Linked DNA regions of Homo sapiens. The protein of the gene in region 2 purifies or fractionates together with the protein of the main gene of each other region. This does not show direct contact. Each region holds a gene or a part of one and is shown on either strand. Other genes may lie near its edges.

Region 1 (3,825 bases), on a different chromosome or scaffold from region 2:
CACAGTACTGGTTTAATAAAGGTTTCATAGATTAATGAACATGAAACATTTGAGCCAGGACTGTTCTTTCCCAGACTTATTTTTTTCAGTTCAAGATCCCTGAACTCCTGTGCTTCATTCTCTATTTCACACATTTGATCCTCAGTATTTGCCACCAGTATTATTCATTTTTAAATTTGTGGTCTCCCCTAAACCAGACAAATCCTTTCAGAATGTCTTTTTGCTCTGTATATGCTAGCTGTGTGGAAGAGAGACATCTGTTGTTAATTCATGTGGAACTTGGCTGGATTCTTGACTCACCTTTCATGTGAAATGAGAAATAGGAAAGGCAGTGTTAGTGCCCACCAAATGAAAGAGCTCATCTGCATCCATAACTACATGTCATCCAAAGCACTGCTCCACAGGCATGTTGGTAATTCTTAATTCTGCAAAGCTGGGGGGTTGCAGCTGACATTATTAAATCAGCTGAACAGGACAGATGGTACTGTTGGCTGGCTGTCTCAGATGTTCCCATCAAGTGTTCCCATAGATTTTAGGTAAAACTGGGAATGATCTTAGATATATACTCCCCCCCACCCCCAATTTAACTATAAAACATCAAATATAAACTTACCACCTACTGCTGATATTCTCTTGAGGTCTGCAGTGAGATGAAGAAGTGCCTCTGGAATCTGATGGGCTTACCGCCTCCAAATGGGACATAGAGGAATGAGATGGGGAGAATTTTTTGTGAGGGGAAGATGGAGTTCGGGCTGAGGATCCCTGCACACCATGGGCACCAGTGTCGGAAACGGAGTTACTGCTGCCTTGCCCAGCTCCTGCAGACTTGCTTTTGCTCTGTGCAGAGTCACCTCCCCCACCAGCAGAATTTTCCTTAGCTTCTTGTTTCCGTTTTCGGTACTCCAGCAGGGATACCTAGAAAGGAAAAAACAAACAAACAAAAAACGGTACTCTATCTGGATATCATTAGTGGATCACCAGCAACAGGGAAAGAAGGAAAGATGGTACCTTAGTAAACCACTAGCCAAGCCACGCAAACAAAGCAGACACCAACCCTGATAACTTTTTTTGGGGAGTATGAAAGAGATCTGAGCACAGCTACATATTTAAGGCAGCTGGAAATTGGTAAGAGGAAGATAATAAACTAGGAGGCAAGTCTCTAAAGAATGTTTGCCAATTAGACCACCATCTTTTTTTCTGCCTTCAGAAAAACTTGTGAGGTTACCATTACACAGTAACAGAAGCATGCTATCACAGTTATTTGCAACAATGGAAGTACCTAGAGAAGGGAGAATTGGAAGCTTGTATAGTTTAAAAAGCCTCCCAGGTGACTGATGGCTGTTCTGTACTCCTTGGGAACCCCTAGAGTTAGCTGTTTGAGAGAAAGAAGCAGGGAGAGGAGAAGGAGATGGAGGAGAGGGAGGTGGGGAGAGGTAGGTGGAGAGAGAGAGGGAGAGAGAGAAGGAAAAACAAAACAAAACAGAAGAAAAACCCAATGCTCCAGGATACTTAAATATGTTCAAATTTTCAAGATATAAATAGGAATTTATTACTGTTTCTGTCTTACACATAGATGTAATTAATGTAAAAAGAGAGGAAATTATTATTTCCAGTTTATAATTTTAGCAAGCTAGCTCTAGAAAACAACTTGGTAACTTCTCCCTAACTTCCCCTTCATCTCCCTAATGCTTGCTCATTCTTTCCTGACAGCAGACCTCCCATCCCACCCTGCCCACCATAATCCGTGCCCTGCCTAGTACACCTTCTCTTTGTTGTTCTGGCACATTGCTTACACAGGCCGTAGAACCTATTACCATGCCTTGATTGCTCCCTGACTAAACTATAAGTTCTAGGAAGGCAAAGGCCAAGTTTATCTGGCTTTTTATCTTTAACATCCAGCACAGAATTTGGCATATGCTTAAATTTATGCTTAAATGTGCCCAATAAATTTCAGAAGTGTTTCTGAAATAAAATATCATAATTTCTATGACTTTTGCACATAGTAAATATTATAAAACCAGAAATCCAAAGATTGTTTTCATGTTTGTTTCTGGTAGTCAATGCTGTTCACGCAACAATCTTCGAAATCAATTATTATCTTAATCCAAATTATCTGCCAATGTTTCCTCCTCCTTCTATCCCCTTAGGGTTCTCATTTTTCTGTCCAAATGGAACAAAAATATAGACAGTTTTGCATATGCATTTTCTAGAAATAATTTTGGAAAGAAGTTAATAAATTCTGGTAATATCATTATAATGAAAATATAAAAAAACCACTAGGTTTCATTTCAATGAGGATACTACAGATGTTTGGCCATTACATGGGACTGTCCCCTATACAGGACATTCAGCATCCCTGGCCCTGCTCAATAAATGCAAGTCACTGGGACAATTCAAAACACTCCTACTCATTCTCAAACACCCCTAGTTGAGAACCACTTATACAAAAGCATATTTTTGGCTTTGTGACTTCTTGATCAGGCATTACTTGGAAGTGGAGTCCCAACCCATTAGCAAGCTCTCTATGGCCTGGCCCAGCCCAGCACTCTCTGCACTTTCCTCCTGGCTCCCCCGGCCTTCCACCTGATACAACAACATCCAACTGTTTGCACCATACTGCATGCCTGCTGCCTGGCCAATGGAGTGCCACCTAATTACCTGTTCTACTCCCTCTACTGTAACATACCTCACCCTCAATTGTTGGTTGGCTGACTCCTACTTATTGTTTGAGATTCAGTTAAATCAGTAACCTGCTGCCTCTCACTCCAGCCTTCTCTCTCAAACTGGGTAGTATCCTGGTCCTTCCATTTACTAGCTGTGTGACCACGGGAAAGTTACTCAACTTGCCTTAGTTTCCTCATGTGCAAAATAGAAAATTGCCTATCTTATAGGCTTACTGTGAGGATAAAACACATTTAAAGAGCTTAATACAGTGCCTCGAACTTGGGACACACTAAATAATAGGTAAAATTTCTTTTTCACTGTTCTAACCTCTCAATTGCCTAGCAAGTATATGGCACATACAGGCATTTACATTTGCTGAATATTTACAACATTCACCAAGTTGTACTAAAACAGCCTGTCTTTCACTGGATTTGGCAGAGACTATGTCTCACTTGTCTGAGAGTAGTGCGGAACACATAGCAGAAACTTATGAATATCTACTAAACTACTTGGTTAACATTCTTGAAAAGTTCGCCGATATAACATGAAACACTTACTTTTTTCCTCTGTGGTGGGTTCTGGGGGGCAGATGGGACTCCTTCACAGGCCCTTTCACCACCAGGTGACAAGGATCCACGAGAGAGGTCTTTCATTAAGCCATGTTCATATCTGCTGGAAAATCCTTCTGCAGGGGAACAATATCCCCCATCCAAATGTAAAGGCTTCCTATCCCCCACTAGAGGAGATCCTCGATACAGTCCATCTGCTCGAGGCATAGCATTCAAAGGGGAGTAGGCATACATCAAGTTGAACTCTGTCCGAAATGCCTGGTCTGAGTTTCTCACGAGGGTCTGATGTCCATCTCCACTTCTGCTTGGGAAACCAGTCTCAGAAGTGGGTCCGAGGGAGGGATGAGGAGCCAGGTCAGAATGACCTGAGTTGAGTAGGGAAGGTCTATCAGCACAGCTGTTAGTGTTGGAGTCAAGGTATCCTACTTTTGCCAAATCCAGGTCTTTTCGGTGACAAAGCTGAAAGAATAAAAATCAACGGAGACATGGGGTAGGGGAGAAAGGAAAAAGTCAAAGGGCAGAAAGGAGGGGAGAGGGACACAGGTGAACAGGGAAAGATAAGAGGGACGGAAGTAGAGCAGATAAAGCCATT
Region 2 (3,825 bases):
AAAAATCACCAAATGGCAGCTAGTCCCTTCACCAACAAAAACTGTTTTTGCCACAATAGTTGGTTTGCACATATGTTTGTCATTCAGAATTTTAGTTTTTAATATTAAAGATTGAACAATACACTTATCCAAAAACATGCATGTAAAAAAATTTAAAAATTATTTAAGCATGCTTCTTTCTCAAATCTATCTTTCCAATGGGTATCATGTTATTATGGACCAAAATCTTAGCATAGGATAAAAATTATTGTGGTATGTTTCTGCCTGTGGCTGAAAAACCCTCTCATATAAGTTTTATATGCTTATTTTGTGTTTTAAACCATGTGCCAGGCAAAAAAAACAAATCACACTGGAATAATTACAACTAGAATGAAGCAGTATTATTTCTTTGTGAGTGCTGTAACTGATATTTAGTCAACAATAAATATAAACAATATTCCCATAAGTTTTTAATATATAGAGTCAGAGCTCATATACTAAATCCAAAATATATCAAATATAAATTTCTGAACATTCTTTTGAAATGGTTTTGCCTTTCAAAAACATGGCCTGAAATATGGAAAACTGTATAACTTTGGTTCATGAAAAAATAAAGGCCATTTCTGAGGGCTGAGAGAAATCAAGAGAGAGAAAAAGAATGGTACACTAAAATCAAAAAAGTGTGTTTTAAGAGATGCAAAAGATCAGAGTTTCCCTGGGCTCCACACAAATAGAAGGAACCAAAGCTCTCAAAAAGAGCACAAGTGAATGTTATGGACTGACTGACTGTGCCACTCCTTTCCCAGATCCGTACATTGATGCCCTAATTCCAATGTGGCAGTATTCGGAGGTAGGGCCTCTGAGAAATAACTAGGTTTAGACAAGGTCATGAGCACGGGAACCCTGTAATACGATTAGTGCCTTTATAATCAGAGAAAGAGACTGGAGTTAACTCGCTCCCTGCATTGTGAGGACACAGCAAGAAGGCAGCCATTTACAAGGCAAGAAGGGGGCCCTCACCAGAACCTGATCAGGCTGGCACTCTGGTCTTAGACTTCTAGGCTCCAGGAGTGTGAGAAATTAATTTCTGTTATTTGAGCTACCCAGTCTCTGTTATTTTGTTATGGCAGACTGAGCTGACTAATAATGTAGATCCACGCTGTTGGTATACAGCCCAAGTTATTAGAAATTAGCTACTCAAAATTCTGCAAATAAAATTCAACCAAGTATGAGCTTACAAAATTATTCTCAAACACATAATGGGAAATAAGAAGCCATGACTGAGGATGAGCTAATAAAATTAACAAATACCCTGAAGGACACTAGTTGTTATAATTAAAGGGTACAAAATATAACTATAAGTAAAGTATATAAGGAAATAACAGCTACAATAAAAAGATCAAACGACGTAAGGTTATAACATGAATCTGCAAATCTGAAAAAAATATATATTTAGAAATTTTAAAAATAAAATTATTGAAATTAAGAAATCAATGGATGGGTTAAATAGCATATGAGAAACAGCAAAATTCAGAGTAAATGAATTGGGAAATAAATCCGGAAAAAAAATGAAAAACATGATATGTTCTCACTCACAGGTGGGAGTTAAGCTACGAGGCTGCAAAGGCATAAGAATGATACAATGGACTTTGGGGACTTGGAGGAAAGGGTGGAATGGAAGTGGGGCGAGGGGTAAAAGACTACAGATTGGGTAAAGTGCATACTGCTTGGGTGATGGGTGCACCAAAATCTCAGAAATCACCACTAAAGAACTTACTCATGTAACCAAACACCACCTGTTCCGCAAAAACCTATGGAAATAAAAAATAAAAATAAATAAAGTACATATTTGAAAAAATTATCCCAACTATAGACAGATGAGGAACTGAACACAGTATAGGTGGTTAAAATTATAAAGGATACAATAAAAAAGTATATTTTCCTAATCAAAATTCCAGAAGAGAATGGAAATAAAAGATAGATGTAACATTCAAAGAATTAAGGGTTGAGAATGTACAGAAACTAGAAAATTTAAGACCTAGAACCACATGTTTGGAAAGAAAAATGTATACCAAACAGGATAAACAGTGGTGTCAATAAAAAGAAATTTTTACTTAGATGCATTTTAGTGAATTGCTGAGCAGCATTGGCAATAATAAGAATTATAAGAAAAAAAGGAGGGAAAAAAGAAAAATAAGGTTATTTATTTATATAGTGATAAATATGTGTTAGAAACACTAATAAGCTCTTTATATATATTTGATCTTCACTATGACTCATAAGATGACTACATTATCTCTAAAACACTTAAACAACATCACAGAGAAAATAAGTCACAGGGGTGAAATTTCTTCAAAGAGCTAATAGAAAATAATGTTACTCTGGAATTATCAAAAATCTCTCTCAAAACAAGAACAAGGCTGGGCATAGAGGCCCATGTCTGTAATTCCAGAACCTTCGGAGGCCAAGGCAGACAGATTACTTGAGGTCAGGAGTTCGAGACCAGCCTGGCCAACATGGTGAAACCATATCCCTACTAAAAATACAAAAATTAGCCGGATAGGGTAGTGGACACATGTAGCCCCAGCTACTTGGAAGGCTGAGGCAGGAGAATTGCCTGAACCCAGGAGGCAGAGGTTGCAGTGAGCCAAGATTGTGACACTGCACTCCAGCCTAGGCAACACAGCAAGACTCCACCTCAAAAAAAAAAAAAAGGAAGAAAAGAAACAAGAACAAGTATTAATGTTCCAACTAAACAAAGCAGTCCTCTCCTACAGAAATTACTAAGGATATATTTTAGGGACAGAAGATCTGAAAGGGAAGAAATAGTGAGCAAACAATTTGGTAAACATGTAAGTATATAGAAATATTTGTGTAGATAAATAAAATGCTTGCAAAAATAAAACAAAAATGCTTGTAAAAATAAAAAAAAACAATAATGATATAGTATTAATAAAGTTCATGTGCTATTAAGAAGAGAAGTAAAACCTTGATCAATTTAGGCTTTACTAAATTCAGTCAGCATGGTAAAATGTTAAGAGTGAGCACTATAAGAATAGTAATAGAGCATATGACTTCCAAACCAGTATAAGAAAAAAAGAAATGGGTAAGAAAAACTTACAATTATAAACATCTAATATATCTAAAAGAAAATAGGAAAGGAGGAAAAAAGCACTAGAATAAATGATACAAATAGAAAATGAATTTTAAAAATAAGTTTTTAGATAGAAATACAAACATATGAACAAATCCAACAAACACAAATAGACTAAAGTGGAAGCTAAAAGACATAAAAGACAAAGATTTTTCAGTTTGGCTAAAAAGAAACAAATTCAGCTATATGATTTTTACACGAGGCACACTAAACTTCTAAGGAGATACAAAGATTGAGAGTAAACAAAGCAAAGCAAAGCAAAGCAAAATGAAAAAGTACCAAAAAAAGTTACCTAGGCCAAAGGAAATGAAAATAAAGATGAGGGATAGGGCCAAGATGGCAGACGAGAAGCAGCTTGTATGTGCTGCTCTCACAGAGAGGAACTAAAAGGCTAGTCAACACTGACCCTGCAGGCCAATCATCTGAGAAACCATGCTGGGATCCATGAAGGCAGCAGGAGAACACAGAGAACAGAGAGGAGCAAAGCTATCTGTCTGGGATCAATGTGGCGCAGAAGAACCTCTACAAAAATGGGAAAGGGTGAGAGAGTGAGAGCTCCCCAGGAGATTCATGCTCTCTGCAGAGACCTGTACAAGACTGGGAGTAGGAAAATCTGCCTGGCCCCCAGCTGTGCTTCCAAACTGAGGGAGAGAGCCATCCAGACATTTTGCAGGGGCAACTATCAAGTCCAA

The links.
Region 1: the proteins of SPAG16 (region 2) and SETD5 purify together in Homo sapiens (affinity purification with mass spectrometry; one large-scale study listed by BioGRID and IntAct). This does not show direct contact.

What each region holds. Positions count from the first base shown.
Region 1 is NC_000003.12:9,470,326-9,474,150, reverse strand, and holds part of SETD5 (histone-lysine N-methyltransferase SETD5), read right to left. Parts: intron 3,693-3,825; coding exon 3,222-3,692; intron 916-3,221; coding exon 614-915; intron 1-613.
Region 2 is NC_000002.12:213,924,224-213,928,048, reverse strand, and holds part of SPAG16 (sperm-associated antigen 16 protein), read right to left. Parts: intron 1-3,825. UniProt on the Homo sapiens protein: Necessary for sperm flagellar function. Plays a role in motile ciliogenesis. May help to recruit STK36 to the cilium or apical surface of the cell to initiate subsequent steps of construction of the central pair apparatus of motile cilia.